3 linked regions of the Homo sapiens genome follow. The protein of the gene in region 3 interacts with the protein of the main gene of each other region in a pairwise test. Each region holds a gene or a part of one and is shown on either strand. Other genes may lie near its edges.

Region 1 (7,107 bases), on a different chromosome or scaffold from region 3:
GAGGCTGAGGCAGCAGAATTGCTTGAACCCAGGAGGCAGAGTTTGCAGTGAGCTGAGATTGCACCACTGCGCCCCGGCCTGGGAAACAAAGCGAGACTCTGTCTCAAAAAAAAAAAAAAAAAAAAAGAATAGTTTCTGAGTGTTTGGTTTTGACAAGTTATTGATCTACTTTGGGACTTTTAAAATGGATTTTTAGTTGATTTTGTGTTTTTAAAGTAACACTAAAAATAGGAACGGAGCACAGAACAGCCTTGGGTCCCTAAGTGTAATTATACAGGCTGATTATTGATTGTGGTGGGCATAATACAATCAGTCTTCTCTGGATTTGTATCTTGGCAGAATCACATTTGCAGTGCTACCAGTTGATTTGCAGCGTAGGATTTGAATTCTTGGTTTTTCTGAGTGGAGCAGAATGGTGTTTCTTGGGGGTTTCCATCTAACTGGTGTTTGACGTCATGAAGCAGGAAGCAGAGATATGCTTCTAGAGGAAATTTGTTCAGTCTATGCTGGTTGGCCCCAGGAGTGGCTTATTAGCATGTTTTCTAAAGGCCATTTTAAAATTTCTGAATATTTGGCCGAGCATGGTGGCTCACACCTGTAATCCCAGCACGTTGGGACATTGAGGCAGGCAGATCACCTGAGATCAGGAGTTTGAGACCAGCCTGGCCAACATGGTGAAACCCCTTCTCTACTAAAAATACAAAAACTAGCCAGGCATGGTGATGGTCACCTGTAATCCCAGCTACTCGGGAGCCTGAGGCAGGAGAATGGCTTAAACCCAGGAGGCGGAGGTTGCAGTGAGCCGAGATCACGCCATTGCACTCCAGCCTGGGCAAGAAGAGAGAAACTTCATCTCAAAAAATAAAAAATTAACAAAATTAAAGTTTCTGAATATTTGCTGCTAATAACTAAAATTTAAATCTTCCAAAGTTCAATTTAAAGCCTTTTAGTGAGAAAATGGCTTACTTATCATGAGCCTGGAGAATGTAATTATTTACAACACAGACTTTAAAGGCAAACCTAGGTTCAAATCCCAACTGTGCTACTGTTCACTGTGTGATCCAGGGCAAGAGAAAAATTTTCTGTCTTCACCGTAGCTCAGTCTGTTTCCTCAGCTGTGAGATAGAAATAACTTGGAGAGGTTTCTTTAAGGATTACACGAATAGGCCAGGTGCGGAGGCTCACACCTGTAATCACAGCACTTTTGGAGGCCGAAGCGGGTGGATCGCTTGAGGCCAGGAGCTCGAGACCAGCCTGGCCAACATGGCAAAACTCTGTCTCTACTAAAAATACAAAAATTGCCAGGTGCAGTGGCTCACCTGTAATCCCAGCACTTTGGGAGGCCAAGGCAGGCGGATCACCTAAGGTCAGGAGTTTGAGACCAGCCTGACCAACATGGAGAAACCCCATCTCTACTAAAAATACAAAATTAACAGGGTGTGGTGGCACATGCCTGTAATCCCAGCTACTCCGGAGGCTGAGGCAGGAGAATGGCTTTAACCCGGGAGACGGAGGTTGCAGTGAGCCAAGATCGTGCCATTGCACTCCAGCCTGGGCAACAAGAGCGAAACTCTGTCTCAAAGAAAAAAAAAAATACAAAAATTAACCAGGCATGGTGGCACGTGCCTGTAGTCCCAGCTACTCAGGAAGCTGAGGCATGAGAATTTGCTTGAACCCAGGAGGTGGAGGTTGTAGTGAGCTAAGATTGTGTCACTGCACTCCAGCCTGGGTGACACAGCAAGACTCTGTCACCAAAAAAAAAAAAAAAAAAAAAAAAGGATTACATGAATATACACACATACACGTGCACATATCACAAAGCAAGGTACCCAGGATATAAGAAGCACTTAGTAATTGACAGGTATTATTATTAGCACTTGGCATGTGAGTTAAAGAATTTAATATTCAACATTATTTTACCCCTTCAGCATTTTAGCAAAGGTGAAGACTTAGTGTTGGATTTTAGTTATTGATTGGTTTTGTTTTAAATTTTTCAACATATGACTAAGTCCTGAATAGAGGGAAACAAAGCTTGTTTGCATATGTCATGATCTCAAGCATCTGAGCCAAAGATTTTTAGGAGAGTGTGTATCTGTCTTGGAGTGTGTGTATTTAATAATTTTGTCATGCAGATTATCTTTCTTGAGTTTTTTGGTCCAAGGAAAAAAGAAAGGCAAGGGATTCAGCTAGCCGATGTCTTCTTTCTGAATTGTCAGTTGCTCCACTCTAAGCTCTACTATCTTTAAGTAGCATCATCCTGAATGTCATATAAATGGTTTTGTAGATACTGTGATTACCGTGCAGAGTTATACCTTCTGTGAAATTTAAGGGACTTTTAATGGTAATTTTGATTAAAAGTGGTTTTTACCTTACTTTTGAAGACAGCCTCCCCCACTGTCCTCAAAGTAAGGAGCGATGATAGGAACAACCAAAACTGGAGTGAGAAGAAAACATGGATAGGGGAGTTGAGTAGAGGTGGGGGAACATGAAAGGCGGGAGTTTGTGGGTTGAAGAAAACAAGACTACAAAGAGGCATTGAACTAGATAATGCAATGCGCTGTAATATGGCTCATCTTTGCCAGTTATTTCCAAACTCTGCATTTCAGGTACAGAGCCAGAACTTCCAATCTAAATGTGTCATTTGCTGTTTAATGAATCCTTTCTGACTTCTGGAGCCACAAAGAATATAGTTCTCAATTGTTACTGAATTTAAAGAATGCAACCCTTAATTGTTACTGAGTTTAATAGAAACAAGAAAGGAAAATAGGAAAGCACAGGATGATGGGGTGGGTCTACAGACAAAGACTCCTGACCGTGAGCTTCGGGAGCATCTGCGTAGATTCTTTGTGCAAAACTGCTGGGAAAGGCTAGGCTGAAGCTGAAGTGTGCTCTGGGTCTACTCACCATAGAAAGGTGAGAGCCAGGCCAGGCATGGTGACTCACGCCTGTAATCCCAGCACTTTGGGAGGCTGAGGCAGGTGGATCACCTGAGGCTGGGAGTTCAAGACCAGCCTGACCAACATGGAGAAACCCCGTCTCTACTAAAAATACAAAATTAGCCAGGCATGTTAGCACATGCCTGTAATCCCAGCTACTCGGGAGGCCAAGACAGGAGAATCGTTTGAACCCAGAAGGCGGAGATTGTGGTGAGCCAAGATCGCGCCATTGCACTCCAGGCTGGGCAACAACAGTGAAACTCCATCTCAAAAAAAAGAAAAGTGAGAGCCAGGGAAGGAGAACAGAAAGTAGAAGCAGGGATAAATTGTTTTAACACGAGATAAGAATTGTAAGTTATAATGGAGAGAAGGATGAAAGATAACTGACAGGTAAGTTATAGGAAAAAGAAAGAAGCACAAACTGGGTTTTTTGTTGGAGAATGGGGGCTCCAGGGAGGCCCTCATTACTTGGTTTCTGCTAAATAGTCCTTTCTGTTACAGCAGGTGCTACAGAAGTAACAACAGAACCAATCTAGTTCTTAACTGACTTAATGTTTGAGGGTATAACAATGATCTGGTCTAGCCCTATATATCAGTTTCATCTTGTTGCCTCTTGTCCTTAAATTGAGGGCACAGAATAAATTTCCTTAAAAGGCTCTATCCCCAAAGACTTCTTCACTTCTAAACCCTTAGCCATCACCACACTAACAGACTCTTAACACGTTCCTCTTGGGGGTCAAATAACTTCTCATTCAGCCTGTCTCGTATCACAGTCATCATTTCCCCAGTAAACCCAGTTCCATTTCTAACATCCCTGTTTTTGCTAATGGTATCATCATTCTAGTCACCCAGTCTCAAAACCTCAGCTGATCTGGGATTATTTCCCCTCTTACCTCCCTAAATGAAAATCCGTCATTTACTGTAAGTAAATTCTTAAATAACTAAGTAAATTCTTTTTAATGTCTCTTTTGTCAGTCTCTTCCATTCTTATTGCTACCATCCTAGTTCATACATTTTTGCCTCATACCTATGCTGTTAAATTTTTTTCCCGACTACTCTTTCTGTTTCCATTTTCTCTTCAGTCAAGTCAGCCCTGTACTGTAAGCATTAACTTTCCTAAAACTATGCTTTTGTTATGATTTTCACCAGGTTAAAAATGTTGAGTGGCTTCCCATTTTCTAAAAGGTAAAGTCCAGTTGTGTTGGCTGAGATTGAAAGTGCTGTACATTTCTTTCCAACCAGCATTTTTTCAGTATCTGAACCAGACACTGCTAGTGCTAAGTGTGATCAAGTTGAATAGACAGAGTAGTTGTTCAGATGAGTTCAGAGTCTTGTGAGACAGAAGACAGATATGTAAACAGATGAATTGATGTAATAGAATGTGATAACTGCTCTTGAATTACGAATGTAGATACATATCCATTATGCATTTAATTTAATGTAAAAAAATAGCTGTGATATTTTCAGGAAACCCATTTCTCAGTCATCACAAGTTAAAGTTGTGACTTGATTAAAACCTGTTAAAATTCAGTGGAAGCAAAGGTATGCGTTTACCTGTATGCTAAAGGCACAAAAAACTAATCTAAGCAGAAGGCTGGCCTTTTCTTTTCCCAAGTATTGTGCAGATACAATTGGCTTGAACATGTCTCTAAACTGACTTTCCCAGGAACTGGCCAGGCCATCTCTTTCTTTTTGGTGCAGATCAACCTGCCAGAAGTCAGAAGTAAACTTGTTTTGGTTTGTAAATTAGACACGTGAATGATAGACAATGATGACCCATTGGAAAAGGAAAACTTCATTATCCTTGCAGATGAAACCAAAAAGTATGCTCTTTAAGGATGAGAAATGAGAAGCTGACCAGTCACTAACTCATTTAAACCATGCAGCCTCCTGTTACAGTATGTATTGTTATGTCCATTTTATAGCTAAAAAACTGAAGTTCAAAGGTTAAATGGATGAAAGAGCAAGTGGCAGAGCCAGGATGCAAACTCAGCTCTGTCAGATTCCAAAATCCATGTGCTTTCCACTATAACATACTGTCTCCCAGCAGAATTACTGTCCCTGAAGAACCATAGAACAACAATTGCCAGGCTTGTTGTTGGAAATATTCAACTGATACTCAATTGTTAAATTTTTTTTAAGTCAGTTATCTGTCTTAGAAGACAAAACAACATCACGAGTTTTATTTCTGCTAGAGGATTATTTGAAGTTTTTTTTGCAGTTCAGATAAAGTCAGGTTATGGGCATCGCTAAAACACAGATTCCTTAACTGTTTGATGGTTAATCCTTCATACCATACTCTGGAGTTTCTCCCCAGTGTGGAATCTTAGTGGAATCAATGACGTCATCATCCTACATTAGCATTTGAAGGGTTTGCATTCCAGGCTGCCTCTAGAATTGTGGCCCATGAATCATCTTACTGAAAATAATCAATCTACATGTTATTGTTCCCTTGTGGTATTTTACAAGTTATGGTGGCATTATTTCAGAAAAGCAAAAATTTAGGGGACTGATGGACAGATAGACAATAGAGACGGTCAGATACATATTTGATTGAAATCATGTTACAATTTCATTTAAATGAAATAAAGCCATCTAACAAATTATATAGAAATGATTCAGCCGGGTGCAGTGGCTCACGCCTGTAATTCCAGCACTTTGGGAGGCCGAGGTGGGCGGGTCACTTGAGGTCAGGAGTGCCAGACCAGCTTGACCAAAATGGAGGAACCCCGTCTCTACTAAAAATACAAAATTAGCCAGGCATGGTGGCACAAGCCTGTAATCCCAGCTACTTGGGAGTCTGAGGCAGGGGAATCTCTTGAACCAGGAGGCGGAGGTTGCGGTGAGGCCGAGGTTGCGGTGAGCCGAGGTTGCGCCATTGCACTCCAGGCTGGGCAACAAGAGCAAAACTCCATCTCAAAAAAAACAAACAAAAAAAATGTAATGTTTCAGTTTCCTGGTAATAATATTCTGATGTTAAAAGACATATCTTTTTTAAAATGTTCAATGATAAAAAATTTATTAATATAAAAGTTGTTATTCATTTTCATTAACATCCATTCCAGTAGCTTAACTAATGTAGTTCTAGTTTGGCCTTGTCTCAGATGAGAATACCTGAGATGGTGTAAACAGATATCCAGGTAGACAGACCTTTTGTTCTTGTTTTGAGATAGAGTCTTGCTCTGTCTCCCAGGCTGTAGTGCAGTGGTGCAATCTCAGCTCACTGCAACCTCCACCTCCTGGGTTCAAGCGATTCTCTTTCCTCAGCCACCTGAGAAGCTGGGATCACAGGTGTGCGCCACCATGCCCGGCTAATTTTTGTATTTTTAGTAGAGATGGGGTTTCACCATGTTGGCCAGGCTGGTCTTGAACTCTTTATCTCAGGTGATCTGCCTGCCTCGGCATTCCAAAGTGCTGGGATTACATGCGTGAGCCGCTGCACCCAGCCCAGACCTGTTTTTAATAGCTTTGCACTAATGTTCTCATTTGAGGGAAGAGATATCTGAATGTTTGTTTATGGGCATAAGGCTACTTCCTTCTTTTCTTCAATATACATATAAATCTTGCTGACATCATATATGAGAGACAGAGAAAGAGATGTGTACACACACACACTTACACATTCACACATTCACACTCACAGAGAGATATAGCAGAGTTGCATGAGTCTTAGAACTAAACAAAACAAAAACCTGATACCTATTATGTTGTCCCAGAAAGCGAATTAAACTGGATCTTAAAAAGACATGTATGCGGCCGGGCGCAGTGGCTCACGCCTGTAATCCCAGCACTTTGGGAGGCCGAGGCAGGTGGATCACGAGGTCAGGGGTTCGAGACCAGCCTGACCAACATGGTGAAACCCTGTCTCTACTAAAAATAGAAAAATTAGCTGGGCGTGGTGGTGGGCACCTGTAATCCCAGCTACTTAGGAGGCTGAGGCAGGAGAATTGCTTGAACCTGGGAGGCGGAGGTTGCAGTGAGCCGAGATCGCGCCATTGCACTCCAGCCTGGGTGACAAAGTGAGACTCCGTCTCAAAAAAAAAAAAACGTGTGCTAGACCTAGTTCTATTTAACTGTATTCACATTAACAACTCTGGCCTCAGTACTCATCTGTAGAATGAGAGTGCTGAATTAGATTATTGCTGAGGCTCCTTCCAGCTTTGTGAATCGT
Region 2 (8,008 bases), on a different chromosome or scaffold from region 3:
GATGCAAGTAGGTTTCTGATCATTTGTTTCTCTCTCCTAAAAAGTTAAGTATGAAAAAAAGTTCAGATTAGTTGGAGATCTCTAGGCTCAGCTGATCAATCTGACTCTACAATGGGAAAATAAAATAAAGTGAACAGTTTCATAATAATATTTTTACAAGCAATGTTTGTCTAGCACCTAAAATGCGATGGCTTTCAGACAGAAAAATGGCCAATAGTCTACAAATGTTGAACATATAAAGTACAAATTTAAAAACAAACTGTATTCCCAAAAAGATTGTTGGACAGTGTCTGGTTGGTAAGAGTATGTTTTGGGGGGCAGCAAACAATGGGATTGCTAAATTAATCCCTGGGATTCTACTAGACCATACATATGCCTCCTCCACCAGCCTTGTCCACAGCACCATCTACTGCCAAGCCACTGTGCCTACAGCAGTTTTGCTTCTGCAGGGCCCTAAGAGTTAATACCATGCCTTCGCTTAGCTAAGTTATTTAGGAATCACGATTTTTTAAAAAGTCACTTCAAAGTTAAAGGGGAAAGGAGAACATGAAATAAGAGTAAACTCCTGACAATCATTTAAAATATCTAAATAGGAAACACAATCTTTGGTTACTAACACATGGCAAATAAGTAGTTTTAAATAAGTGAGTTTTCTTATCTTAGCTAGTTAGGCTATAAATCCTGCTCTAAAATATTTTAAAGCATGAAAAAGAATTAAATGCTCTGGTTGTTGTATATACAGTAGACATATTTATCTTTTATCATCTTTTAACACTGTGAGAGTTACTTAACTCTGCTGTACCAACGGTTCTTTCCATTGGGAATTGGAAGTGGGATTCTAAACCTAGAGAACAAGGGAGTGCAGGGGAGGTAAGGAATGGGGTTCAGAGCCCAGGTCTTCCCTAATGTGGAGGCCTCTCTTTAAACAATTAGGCTCTTAAAGACAACCAGGTCTCCTTATGAAAGGCACCAGGGCATGACTGGGTTCAAGACTGATGTCTTGCCCTTAGAGATCCAATATATAAGATGAATTAAATCAACCCTCACCATGCATAAGGATACGCAGAGAAGCCTGTCAGTCATAGGCATAATAACAACCCAACCTCAGCCCTGATCTAAAATTAAAACCACAGACTTAAAATAGATCATGACCTAACAGATCAGAATTTTAAAAATCAAAACGACCATTTTCCAAACAGAAAATAACACATAGCTTGATAAGAAAAATTAAAAGTAATATTAGCTGACACCTAGAACTATATGCAAGGCACTGTTCTAAGCACTTTATGTCAGGCTAACAAGGCACCAACCACCTCTCTGTTCAATTAGTGACTTTACATGTACAATCTATAGTAATACTACAGATTAAATACCGTAGGGTAAACCAATGGGATGTTATCAGTGAAGGATTCTAGTTTACCATTAACTCACCTTTATTCTAGAATAACTATGCTTAATAAATAGCTTACCTGAATGACCAGGGGTTGTGATGTCACAAAAATGAGTACAAGAAATTAATACAAGTATCTTCCCAGAAATCACTACGTGTAAACTGGGGGGAAAATAATAAATACCTTCTTCACCAACAAAGGAAACGAAGAAAATGGAAGTCCTACTATCCATACTGCAAAAATGCTTATTCTACTATCATATTCCCTTTTGAGAAATAGACCAGTTACGCCAGAAGTGCAATGTTGTCACAGATGTGTGCCAGATTTTGCAGAGGACATAAGTTGGCTGTGAGGAAGAACACAGAGGTTGCCTATTTTTTAGGCAGGAAAGAAAGCCTGCACTTTTCTGTGTGTGTGTGTCAATAAATCTGAATAACAACTTGAAAGGGTTAAAAAGCTGAGCACCAGGTGTTTTCTTTCCACTTTCCAGAGTAATTTAAGCACACTGCAAAGTTATCTCCCTTCCTTCCCCACGAGCCAGCTTAAGGGAGACCTGTCACTGCCATTTACACTGTACAGCTCCAGCTCTAAACAATAGGAGGGCACCAGGCTGGGCAGCAGGCATCGCGGCTTCCCACAGCCTGTATGGGCTTTGTTGCCAAGTTATGAGCTCCGCTGGGTGATGGAGACACGAGTGAGCCAAGGAGAATTTAATTCTATTTCAAATCTGTATGCTTTCAAAGAAAATAGAGACAATTGAGGCCACGGGAGGAGCTGGAGGGGGTAACCAAAAACAAACTTTCGGAACCTCAGAATCTACATTTCTAGCAGTAATTCTCAGCAAAGGATTAGGTGGTATTGATACTCTCATAAAGTATTTAACACCGAGATTAGAGACCATTCAGGAGCGGTGGCCGAGCGGAGTCCCCATCCTTCGTAGTCCCACTCCTCCAGCAGCAACCGGCGGCGCGCTTTCGGAGCCCACCTCCGCTCCGCAGCGCGGCCAGCTTCCCCCCGCCCTGGCTCCAACCCCGGCTCCAGCCCCGGCCCCGTGCCCAGCCTCCTAGCCGAGCCCGGGACGTGCAGCCAAGCCGAGCGCAGAGGGGGCGCGGGGCAGGCAGCGGCGCTGCGCCTCCCCCGGCAGCCCAGAAAGCCGGACGGGGTCCGCCTGGGCCAGTGAGGCCGGGCTCAACGGAGACCCGGGCCGGGCGGGGAAGCTGCAGGCGCAGAGCCGGCTTAGCTCCGCGCCGCCTGGCCGCGCGCAGCTCCCGCATTGTCCGCAGTCGGGGCGCGGCGCGACCACTGAACCCGAATCCCAACCCCCGCCCAGCAGTCTCTCTCCCGGCCCCCACGGCCCAGTCTTACCTGGGCCGCTCACCCCAGTCCCTGGCGGTGCGGCCCGAGCCGGGAGCCAGGCTCCGGGGGACTGCAAGGAGGGAGAGTCGGGGCCCGCGAGGGACGAAGGGCCGAGAGCGGGCTGTAGGGGCCGCCGAGTGTTCACGGTCGCCGCCGCGGGGCCGCGGGTAGAGAGCAGACGGGGCTGGCGGAACGGGCCCAGGACGCGCGGCCGCGAAGGGCCCGGCTGGCGGCGGCCGCGATGGTTCGGTCTGCACCGAGTGGGAGGGCTCAGGCAGGCTTCGCCGGAGAGTGAGGGAGGGAACTTGGAGCCAGTTGCTGTGGCCGAGAGCGCGTGTCCCTGAGCCAGTGTACACGCCCCTCGTACACCCCGCCCCGCCTCCATCCCGCCCCCACCCCACCTTCCGGGTCCCCACCCTTCTCGCACCTCCACTCCAAGCCCTGCCTCTCTCTCAACATCTCCACCCCGCTACTGATGCCCATCCCACCCCATCCCTGACCCACCCCCCATTCCACTCGGTCGGCGCCTCCATTTCCTCCCTATCCCCCACTCCCACCTATGTCCGCACGCAAGCACCCCCACCCTGCTCCCACCCGGTGATACCGCTGGATCTCGGACTGCCACCCCAGTGCAGATCGCTCAGCACTGGAGACGTAGAGCCTGTGCCCTGAATGAGATAACCCCACCTGGTAGTCCAGCCATCCAAACGTCTTGGTGCTTGACATTTTCTGTTTACTAACTTTCATATACTCAGATGGAGCGTCCTAGCTTAATTTCTGAAGGCATTTTTAAGACTTCAAAAAAATGTTTGGAGAAAATAGTAAATAACGAAAAATATCAAGCATGATGTACTACCTCTGAAATGTGGGCCAGCTGATGTTTTAAAATGAAATGCTTTGGGGTGCGTCATTATTAATCGCCTAATATAGTATTTGAGAATACTTTCTGCTTAGATTTGCTTAATAACTTGGTTGTTTCAGGAGAGGATTTGTTTTAGGAAGACTAAACACATTGTAATTTAATTTTGCTATTGGGAAGTCTAAAAGATAAAATCCATCTTTATCAAAATGAATTTGAATGGGATATGGACTCACAAAATAATTGTTTCTTCTAGAAAATATTGAGCAAGGATTTCTTTTTAATCTCTGGTACATTAACAATACGATTTCACTCATCTCATTTTCTCAGAAAGATCGTTTATATTTGAATTGTGCTTCAATTCAATGAATCTATTGTTTCATAATAGTTAAGAAGTTGCCAACTAAATAAAACTCAGACTTTATAATAATATATTTTTTTTCTATTTAAAGATTACCATTTTAAGAAAGTGACATGATACTGGGATTTAAATGGAACTTTCCTTTGGCATACTAATACATTCCTTGTTATCACAGATTACGTTGTGGTCTCCATTAACTCCAAAAGTCATATAACAATAGAAATAAACTATTTTTCATCATTCCCATAGCAAATGGAACCAACTTCTCTCCCTCTCAAGTATACTTTTTTTCCCCACTTCTTTGCCCCAATCCCTTCCTTTTAGGAATTTCCCCCTCCCATTGGGTGTGACTAGCCCACAGAGCTTCCTGACATTGTGAGGGATATGACCCAGGCCAGCCAATTAGAATATCGTCTGAGAACAAAGGAGGAGGGTCCTTTCCCTGACTGACAGGGCAGCTCCTGGGACCATATCATATATGCGTGCAGCAGCTGGAGTCAACTTACTGGAGAATAAAACAAAACCAGAAAAAAAGCCAAACTGAGCAATGGAGACAGAAAAGTGCCCTGATGACATCAATGGCCATCCGAAGACAGTCACCTCTAAAACCAGTCAAATCCTGAACTTCTGAAGTAATGCACCAATAAATTGTCTTTCTTGCTTATGCCATTTTGAGTTAAGTTTCTTTCCAGAAGACTCACTTATAAAATCATAAAAGATTCCCCTATGATCGATGCTTTGAAAATCAGGAATGTAACCAATGAGTTTTAGCTTTCTTTCTTTTTTTTTTTTTTTTTTTTTTTGATGACAGAGTCTCACTCTGTCACCCAGGCTGGAGTGCAGTGGCATGATCTCCACTCACTGCAACCTCCACCTCCTGGGTTCAGCAATTCTCCTGCCTCAGCCTCCCGAGTAGCTAAGATTATAGGCACGGGCCACCACGCCCAGCTAATTTTTGTATTTTTAGTAGAGACGGGATTTTGCCATGTTGGCCAGGCTAGCCTGGAACTCGTGACCTCAGGTGATCCACCTGCCTCAGGCGCCCAAAGTTCTGGGATTACAGACGTGAGCCACTGCGCCGACCAAGTTTTAGCTTTTCTATTGCCTAAACTACTTCTTGATAATAAAGTATATGCCAAGGAGTTCACTTAGTAGGACCCCTAACTCTTATTATTAAGGTTCTCATTTAGGGTTTTACTATTGCCCAGTGTAGATTTAATAGCCCCAAATTGTCATCACCAAAACCAAAAACCAATAAAAGATGTGGTTAAAGAGACAGAGAGAACACAGTAAAACATCTATGCTGGAATATTTCAGTAAATATTGTCTTATCAATTATGCCAATAAAACTGCTCTCATAATCCCTAATGTTTGCTGATTTAGGACATAGTTTTCTTGTTTTGGGGACTGAAAATGTTAAGGACTGCTACAGATTTTCAGAGAATGTTGAAATTAGTTGTTTGTACTAGAATTTTATTGTGTTGTTTATTCTTCAGAAGTGGGCCATTATCCTAGGCTTGGAATTCTTTTGTTTCACAGAGGTTTCTGTCTCTAAAAGTATGTAACAATATTTGACTAGTACCCAAACAAGCATCCATACACGAATCAGAATGTAATTTAACCATTATTCACAGGTGACTCTGGACAGTGGGACTATTCCTAGCAAGCAGGGAGCCTAGGGACATGCAGTTATTAGCTCTAATCCTCTGACTGCCAAAATGGTTTCTTACGGGAAAATGTGAGCTTGAAAAGACATGAGCTCAGAGTTTTCACTAGTCTTTCTCCAGATGGGTACGTACCTAAGTTGTGTCAACAACTAGGGAAACTTTAAATGTATAAAAGCCCGTAAGCTGAATAATAACATATTATAAACAGATGCAAGCCTCACAAAAGGAGAGCATCTCTGAAAACAAAACAACCAAAGCAGCTTCAGAGGAAAAGTAAAAAAATAAAGAGTTCTGGAATCCAGTCCCCGCTCCAAGTGGCACTTGTTCTAATGATTGGCTATGCCAGGGAAAATGTCAGTCAAATATCCAGAGTACCCCCAGCATGCCTGTATTGGATCAGTGGGATGCTTGTACCCATTTTCTTGCCTAAGAGTGGTACAGCAGTCCCTCAATTAACCCAGGGTCAGTCAGACCACCCTGTCTGTCCAGAGCTCCCCCTGAAATCCTGGCATACATCAGCGGTTTTCAGACCACGAAACACAATCACCTGCAGTACTCCCAACTAATGCCAGGTCTCTAGGTTGAGGGAGAACGGATAGGCCTGTGTTGTTTTTTTTTTAAAAGATCTGCCCAAGAGATTGTAGCGATCTGGCAGGGCTAAGGTAAACAAAGTCTGTGAATCTGTGCTCTTAATTCCACAGAAAAAGACTTGAGAACCCCTCAGCCCTCAGATCAGACTCCATTGTCTTAGAATTGTATGTAAAATTAAAGTTATTGATTGAACAAGCTCAATTTGTCTTTTCCCCTTAACAACCATAGTTCTTCTGAGGAAATAGAAAAAAGCAGCGAGGAATGCACCTTAGGAGGAGCTGGAGGATTTGCTAGAAGCAATCACACTGAAAAAAGGCAGCTCACAGCAAGGCTGAGATAAGAGAGTCACTAAATAGAAAAGCATTGTCAGTTGCTGGACTAAGAGGCCACTCCACTCCATCCTGGGCAACAGCCCCTGGGGGTTCCCTCATGTTGCTTGTTTCTCAGCGTAGTGCATGTTCAGGCTGGCGACCAGAAGATCAAAACGATCGAATTATGTTCTTGAATGCTGACCTCCATCATTTAATACTAATAACTACCATTTATTGAAACTTTGTGCTAGCAGTTTATATGTTTCATTTTCATTTTCAGTGGTCACAACGGCCCTAAATGTACATAATATTGATTACCATTTTATGAACAAGAAGTTCATGCCCAGGAAAGAGACAAATCCAAGATCACAGAGTTAGTGATTAGAGGACTTAAAGCCTGGCCCATGTGATCCCAAAGCCTACATATCTTTACTATAAGCCAAGCTTGCCAATGAATCTCACATATTACCTATACAATAAGAGAGCAGTAGTCACATGAGGCTATTGAAATTTAAATGAATTAAAATTTTGTGGAATTTACATTCATTACATTAAGTTAATTAATTAATTAATTCCTTTTTTTTTTTTTTTTTTTGAGAGGGAGTTTCGCTCCTGTCGCCCAGGCTGGAGTGCAATGATCTCAGCTCACTGCAACCTCAGACTTCAGGGTTCAAGAGATTCTCCTGCCTCACCTTCCCAAGTAGCTGGGATTACAGGCACGTGTCACCACGCCTGGCAAAGTTTTTTTTTACTTTTAGTAGAGACGAGGTTTCACCATGTTGGCCAGGCTGGTCTCGAACTAGGCGATCCACCTGCCTTGGCCTCCCAAACTGCTGGGATTGCAGGAGTGAGCCACCACATCCAGCCTCATGACATTTAGTTTAAATTCATTGAATTAAAAACTTTATTTTGTAAATGAGAATAAATTGCAAGTTTCTCAGCTACACTGGCTACTTTTCAAGTGCTCTGTAGCCACAGGCAGCTGATGGCTGCCCTGTTGGACTGCGCAGATAAATGCTTCCATCATTGCAGAAAGTTCTATTCGATGACTCGGATGCTGCTCAGATTTATCAGTATCATCATCAATTAAGGCAGTGTTCTTCATGAGTGAGTTTTCCAAGTAAATTACCCCAACCCTTTTATGTTAACTGTTTTGATGAAATTCTTTCTAAAACGGGTAATATGTTTCTGTGCCAGCCTTAATCAGCAGGTTGTACTGAACTGAGTGCCTCTGTGAGGCATGCAGGGTCAGGAGACCACCTGCAAGGCACCGGAATGCCATGCTGGGGAGCTGTGCTTCTCTTCTTCCTGTGTCATCTCAGTTCTCACCTTTAGTCTTTGCTTCTGCAGAGTACCTACTTGCCATTGGCCAAAGTATGGTGTTTGCTAACGCTCTGCCTTTAGCCTACTTCTGTCTGTCCATTTCCTCTCCCTATTGGTTTTTTGATTTTCCAATTCTATGTTTTCAACTA
Region 3 (7,107 bases):
ACAGGGGAGCAGCGGTCTTGAGTTCCCACTCTGCCAGGCTCTCCTGCCTGATTTCTGTCCCCCTGACCCTCCTGGAAGCTGGGGGACTCTGCAGGGTCCCTCTCAACAAGCACTCTCCCGGCCCCTGCAGACAAATAAATGAGGCCAGCTACCTCTGCAATATATCTTCCCACCCACTCACCTGCCTACAGGTAGACAGCCTTCCCACTGCTGGGCTAGGTGTTCTCTGGTGTCCTATCACCTTCTACAAACTCATGGTGCCTGATGGACCTCGCATGTACAGCCCAGACAGTCGTAGGAGAATAGACTTGAAAGGGGCTTGAAGAGAGCCAAGGATAACCTGCTCATTGTATAAAATGAGGATTCTGAAATCCAGAGAAGTTAAGAGATGAGTCAAGGTCATATAGCTTGTTCTCAATTTCACATGCGTTTTGTTTGGTCTCCTCATCAAAAATATGTAGCTCCTAGAGGATGAGGCCACTGAGTGTTCCCCACAGCATGCTAATGGGCACTAATTAAATAGTGGGTTCAGGCCACACCTGTTGACAGGTGGATTCTTAGGGAGGAAATGAGAATGAGAACAAGCACCTGTCGCCCCTGGGCCCGGGGCATACACTTGACTCTCTGGGCGTCTGTCTCCCTGCCCTGGACCTGGAGATAGAACTGACAATCTCCACAGAGGAAGGTCTCCTGGGAGGAAGGCAGGACAGCTCCTCAGAAGGAGGGGTCACATCACATTTAGACCTAGCACAGGACTTGGTACAGAGGAGCATCCATTCCTTAACAATGCACTGTGGACTGAGGACCGTGAGGGGAAGCTCTGGGGTAGGGCTCACTTGCCACTACTCCAGCACAGACCCATTGTGCTACGCTGGAACCCAGAGAGCCTGTGCCCTCCCCTTACCTAATAGGAATTAGACAGATGCTACCACTAACGGGCTAAACTCCCCTTGGTGTTTGTCGGCTTGACATCTGTCTGGATTGTGAGCTGATGACCACGGGCACGAGCCCCCGAGGGAATTCTTTCCACCCAGGGGTCCAGCTTACACCTGGGCTGGCAGACCAAGGCCACACTGCAGCCTCGCTGCCCCCACTCATAGCCATGAGATATCCCCTGCTCCTAAATCTACCTCTGCCTCTTAGTGCGGGCCCTCCCAGCCCCACCTGAGACTGAAGACTTTGTGGAAGTAAAAAACAGATCTTCTAGACTTTGGTTTTCACAACAGTAGCTCTTCCCAGCATTTGCCAAAGATTCGAGTAATGGAGGAGATGAGTTTAGCTGGTTCTTTTATGAAAGATCTTGGGAGAGGACTAGGTAGAGCTCAGGAATGGCTTGTGTTGTCTCCAGAAGGCTAAAGGAAGAACCATCATCATAGAAGATAAGCCTGGGCTACCCTAAATAATGTGCTCCATTGCTACACACAGACACACCTGCACCCACTTCCTGGACCTGCCACTTTAGCCACTCTCTGAGCCCCAGTTTCTCTTACCTATAAAATGATACAATGCCCATTTTACCTGCTTCACAAGGCTAAGAGGATCACACAAGGGCATGTGAGAATGAGCTTTATTAGGACAGAAGACTAATATTTATTCAACATGAGCTTGCCATGTGCCAACCACTTACAGATGTTTTCTTCCAGAGTTTTCACAGCAGTCTTAAATATGCTTGGTAGTATTATTATCCTCACCTATAAAGCCAAGAAAACGGAGGCTCAGAGGGGTTAAGTGATGTGCACACTGCTTAGCTGTAGTAGAACCAGGGTCAGAACCCAGAATCTGACTCCAAAGCCTGTGTTCCTTCCCCTAGCCCCACGCTGTCTCAACAAGAAAAGTAAATGCTGCTTTTTATGAAGAAGCCAGTGAGTTTTCAGACTGAAATTGCTGCCTCATGGAGCCATCCCCTATCGCTAGGAACATCCATTTGTCCCAGGCAGGCCATCAGAAGGGTCAGAACCAACCCCTAGGCCCCCACTGTCCTTAAGACTCTATACCACAGGGGCCAAGCCCCTGCAGTCTGTTGAATGTCATCATGATTCTTTGCTCGGATTTGTGGCGGTGGCGGTGGTTTTAATGATTGCCTAGCCACAAAGCCACGAAGCAATCCAATTGGGAGGAAATATGGAATCATGGAACTTTGAGTAGAAGGGGACCTCTGAGAGCAAGTTCAAGCTCCTCATTGGATAAGTGAGGACACTGACATCCAGAGAAGGTAAGTCCCTTGTTGAAGGTCACACAGTCAGTCAGTGGCTGAGTCCACAGTGGAATCCACCATGCTCAGACTACCAGTCCCCCCTTTCTCTCCACCATCCCGATCACCCTGATATCAATCAGCTTCATGGTTCCTGAGATGGAAGAGGGCTGGATGTGGGCCTATAGTCTCTGCTCTCTCTGCTTAGGGAAAAAGGGGATCTTAGGTAAGAAAGCCATGTTGCAACCAGGAGTGAAGTGATTTGTTTGCCTCATGCACCAACTCATTGGTCTAAGTTCTACCCATTGAGAAGCCAACGTGGAAAGGTCTGCTCGGAAATCCCTCAGTGTGTAAGGGAAACTGGACCCAAACAACAAGGCCTTACCTGGTGCTCCTGGGGCAGGGACAGCCCACTTCTGGCCACCTGGGATAGGTAGAGGGGGCTAAGCTCCTCCTTCTAGTCCAGGCTGCTCCCTTGCAGTCCCCAGGACAGCGCAGAGCACCATGACCTAGGAGGCTCATGTTTCATGCCCCCACTGGCCAGCCGCTCAGCCAGTCCTCCTCTAACACTCTGCAGAGGCTCCCTTCCTCCCAGAAGTCTGCCCTGTGACTCCACTCTGTCCTGGTCACTCCACATCCTGCCCCACTGTTGTCTCCTGTGGTTAACACCTGGTTGGTGGCTTTTTCCACGTCACCTCTCTGTCCATCATCTCTCAGGTCTGTGTATTGTATGTGCCCTCTCTACTGTTAACCCCAGACACCCCTCATCCCCAAAGTGTCCTCAGGGTCTGTGTACCTGTTTTCTACTGCAGCCTCTGCCAGGGCTGTGCACAGCAGGCAGCACCAGGCCACAGCATTGACTGGCTATTTGTGCAACGCTGGTTGAAGACGCCAGTGACCTGGAAAAGGGCCCAAGCCAGGTTCTGGGGAAGCAAAAGGAAAGGGAAAGGGGTAATCCTCCAACTGGATCATCAGCTCCAACATAACATGACAGAGGAGAGTCAACCATGACTGAGCCTCTCCTCTGTGCCAGACACCGTGCTAGGGACTTAACAGATGCCCCTCAACAGTCCTGTGAGCTATGTGCTTTTACTTCCCAATTTACAAATGGGGTAACTGGATCGAAGATGTTAAGCAACTTGTCTAGATCCATATGACAGGTAAAGAGCAGGGCTAGGCTCTAAATGAAGTTTTGCCTGATGCTAAATAAAGCCCATACTCAACACCGCCCCCACCACAAGCAAGCTCCTTGAGGACAGGCTTCATGGCAATGTCTTGGCTTTGTTTTTGCTGCTGTCTCCTCAATGCCTAGGACTGTGCCGGGGACACAGAAGATGCTCTATAAATATTTGCTGAATGGAAGAACAAAGGGAATGGGTGAATGCCATGCTGCCCCTCCCCAGCAAGGCAGGACACCTGCCCATGATGCCCGATTACTGGGTTCTATTTCCAAGAATCCTCAACAACTATTTGTTCCCTCTCTACTAGATTTGGGATGGCGATGTGAGTAGAGATGTAAATTGAACACAAAAGACTACGTCCTAATGAGGTGGAGGATTTACAAGCCTCAGTGCCCTGTGACCTGCTGCTTCTGTGGCCGCTTTCTGGCCCATCTGGATCTGGCTCCTCCTCCACCCCAGCCTCCCCCCTCCCCCACTGGGCACCCCCACTGCCTTGACTGAGCCGTACTCAAATTGGCCACGTTCCTACTAAGCAGAAAACTAACAGTTACCCCACCCACCCCGGCCCTATCCGAACTCTCCAGAGTCTGCTCTGGGCCCCAGGGCCAGCTGCTTTTCTCCACATTCCAGCCAAAAATAATACAAGAACGAAGCTGTTTGGTGGAGACTTAATCTAATCTTCATTGCTTCAGTTTTAAAATATCCTGCCTGGTTTAGGGTTTCTTATTACACACAGGGATGTGTTTTTAGTGAGATAGGTCTTAGCAGAAACGTCCTTCTTGTAATTAGAAACCCAGGCAGGCCGGGCCTGCAGTGAGGCATCCAAGCCAAACAGCAGATCCCCTTGAAGACAACGCATTTGCAGCAAGCTCTTCTCAAGCTCTGCTTGACCGCGTGAGATGAACTGAGCTGTCCCGGGCTTGCTTCTCCCTCTCTCCTGGGGGTTCTGGACGGGAGGAAAACCTGGAGTTCAGGTAGAAAGACTGTGCCCTCCAACTGTTGCTCTCTCAACCCCCAGCCCTGTCTCCCACCCCCAATCAAAATGGAGACTAAGATGTTGCCTGTGATTGGCTGAGAAGGAAATGAGGAGGAAAAATTACCCCAAGGAATCCCCAAAGACTAGGGAGTATTAAAGACAAGCATTCCACCAGAGCCGCGTCTCCAGGATCAGAGCTAGCTTTTACAAATCAGACACCGGAACAGAAGGAGTCTACGAGCGCACACACAGTTTTGTGTAAGTGCCGGGTGTAACTTCTTGGGCTTTCTGGCCCAGAATCTGCTTTGATCTGCCAGCAGAGACTGCTAAGAGAGGTTCAGGCCGTGGCTAGCTGCAGACCAGCACCCAACCCCCTCAGCCGACCAGATGTCACACACACACCAGTCAGGGCTCAGGCCTTGCCTTCCCAGTGGAATAAAGAGAAGGGGCTGCATTTCTGATAAGTCAGATTCTGCATTCGTCTGATACAGGACAGCTATTCCAGGTAACACCATTTGGAAGAAGCGGGCTGGATCCCCCAACTCAGCCAAAATTGCCCCTCTTGGTAAAGTGTAGATGGTTTTTGGAGTCACAGCAGGCCTTTCAAATTCTAGGATGTAATGCAAGGCAGGAATTCAGCCCCTTTACTATAGCCTAAGAACTCCTGAGAGTTGTGGGGAAGGCCCTGGAGCCAGGCGAGGAAAGAAAACACACCGAAGAATGTGACTTTGCTGCTGAGAAGCCTCTATCTCCCATTTTTTTTACTCAGAGCGCAGCCTGTGCTTGATCCAAGCCCATCATCTCACCCTAGTGAGAACTGTGTGTGATACATTCCACTTTACAGATGAAGAAACCAAGGCCCAGAAGCTAGATGACCCACTGGAGTCATGCAGCCCTGGCAATAACAGAGTCAAAAGAGACCAGGCCACTAAATTTCAGCCTAAACACTAGCTCAGCATGCTGACCTGCCAACCTTGATTATCTGCCCACCACTTCCCTCCCTCCTTCCTCCCTTTCCCACCAGGTATTAGATTTAATTAAATTAGCAGATCCCCATCGCAACAATCCTGGCCATGCTGCCTGGATAGAACCCAGCCCGTGGAGCTCCTCCCTCTAAATTCTGCTTCTCAGTATAATTCAGTCTTCAATAAGTCACGGATCTCACGTGAAGTGTTTTATACAAAGCATGGTGTGTTGGCTAGACTCAGGCTAACGGTGGTTCATGATGATTTCATTTTCCATTAGAACTTCCTCAGTTTTTCCTCTGCAGCATCGTTTTCACCCTCTCCATGCTCGGATCTGCGTTTTGTTTGATCCAGACACTTGGCTTCACATGCCGTCACCTCCAGCAATTGCATCACACGTTTATATATATCTTACAGCATCGCAGTCCTTGTGCCACACAGCGTAGGAAAAAGGAAAACTCATAACAGCCTTTCTCACCCTCCTCGAACTAATTTAGAAAATGTGCTCCAGATTAAATAAATCGGGAACAAAAGCCTGAGATTAGAGATAGAATTTCAGAAAGTAGGGAGGGGGAAGCTAAATAAATAGCAAGGAAATCTTGCAACATGTTGGAAGCCTATAAATTTTATTGGTTGTTTCTTTAATAAAAACAAATTCAATTGCTAACAACGCAGTATTATTAAGCCTCTAACATTTAAACATCTAATTTTCCCCTGCTCTGCTGCTGTTTACGTTGCACGTTGGATTCACGGAAGGTAAAGAAGTCAGGTCAATTGGTTTGGTTTGATTCCTAAACCAAGCTAATAGAGACCCCTTTAAAATCCAGCCGTTTTGCTTTCTAGGCATGCCTTGGTCTCTAATGAGTTACAGCCCAGGTTGAAGATGGACATGGCAGAAAGAAATTTAACACACACTCTGGTGCACCCATAAACTTCAAGGCCAAGGGAGAGGAGGTATGTTTCCAGTTAAGCTAGAACTCCATGAATTCAGGATTCTCCACTCACAAGACAGTAATTCTACTTATTTCATCACTAACTTACTTCAAATGTGTTTATACAATTTATTGCTACTGAACTTCCAGGCAACTGGTGTAGAGTTAATGAAACCCAGCTTGGAGAAGCTTTGAGCTTTGAACAACTAACCACAGTTTAAATGGTTATGACATGCGGTCAAAGCCACAGCCTGAGCCCACTGCAGTTTCTGTGTTAGGACCTAGTCAAAAACCTTGTCATCTCACCTTTTGTGCCAAACAGATTGAAAAAGCAAAAAGCACTGAAAAACAGCCTGCCTTGTTCCTTCTCAAGGTTCCCAGGCATTTAAACACATTTATCTTACTAAACGCGAGGCAAAGCCCCTCCCCCAGTCCCAAGTAAATATTTTAGTTGCAGTTTGAATTGGCAGCTGGGCTGAAATCCTGAAATCCAGTTTGGGTTTAACTGAACAGGGGTCAGGCCTACCTAAAGCAATGCTGGGAGAGGCTGCTGGGGAGGCACCAAGCAACATTTAAAGGCAGACTCAGTGAAAGCCCAAAGGCAACACGAGAATGAACAGATGAAACCGGACTGGAAAAGAAGCAAACTCGTCTTTCAGAATCACTTGGACATTAACTTTTATTAATTCTCATTGTCACATGGCACCCTCCCCCAAGCTCTGCCATGTGGGATCCAGCAAGCTCCCTCTTTTTAAACAGGCCCATTTTGGAAGAGTAAAGGGGAGGTACTGGATTTGCCACTGCCACACAATAAAAGCCCCTTTTGAAAGCAGCACTTTCATTAACTTAAAGCAATCTATAG

What was found.
Region 1: the proteins of PKNOX2 (region 3) and CTTNBP2NL interact in binary tests that used the Homo sapiens proteins (3 or more experiments, as listed by UniProt).
Region 2: the proteins of PKNOX2 (region 3) and FAM110B interact in binary tests that used the Homo sapiens proteins (3 or more experiments, as listed by UniProt).

What each region holds. Positions count from the first base shown.
Region 1 is NC_000001.11:112,399,214-112,406,320, forward strand, and holds part of CTTNBP2NL (CTTNBP2 N-terminal-like protein), read left to right. Parts: intron 1-7,107. UniProt on the Homo sapiens protein: Regulates lamellipodial actin dynamics in a CTTN-dependent manner. Associates with core striatin-interacting phosphatase and kinase (STRIPAK) complex to form CTTNBP2NL-STRIPAK complexes.
Region 2 is NC_000008.11:57,989,555-57,997,562, reverse strand, and holds the start of FAM110B (protein FAM110B), read right to left. Parts: upstream 3,041-8,008; 5' UTR 2,757-3,040; intron 1-2,756. UniProt on the Homo sapiens protein: May be involved in tumor progression.
Region 3 is NC_000011.10:125,167,702-125,174,808, reverse strand, and holds part of PKNOX2 (homeobox protein PKNOX2), read right to left. Parts: intron 1-7,107.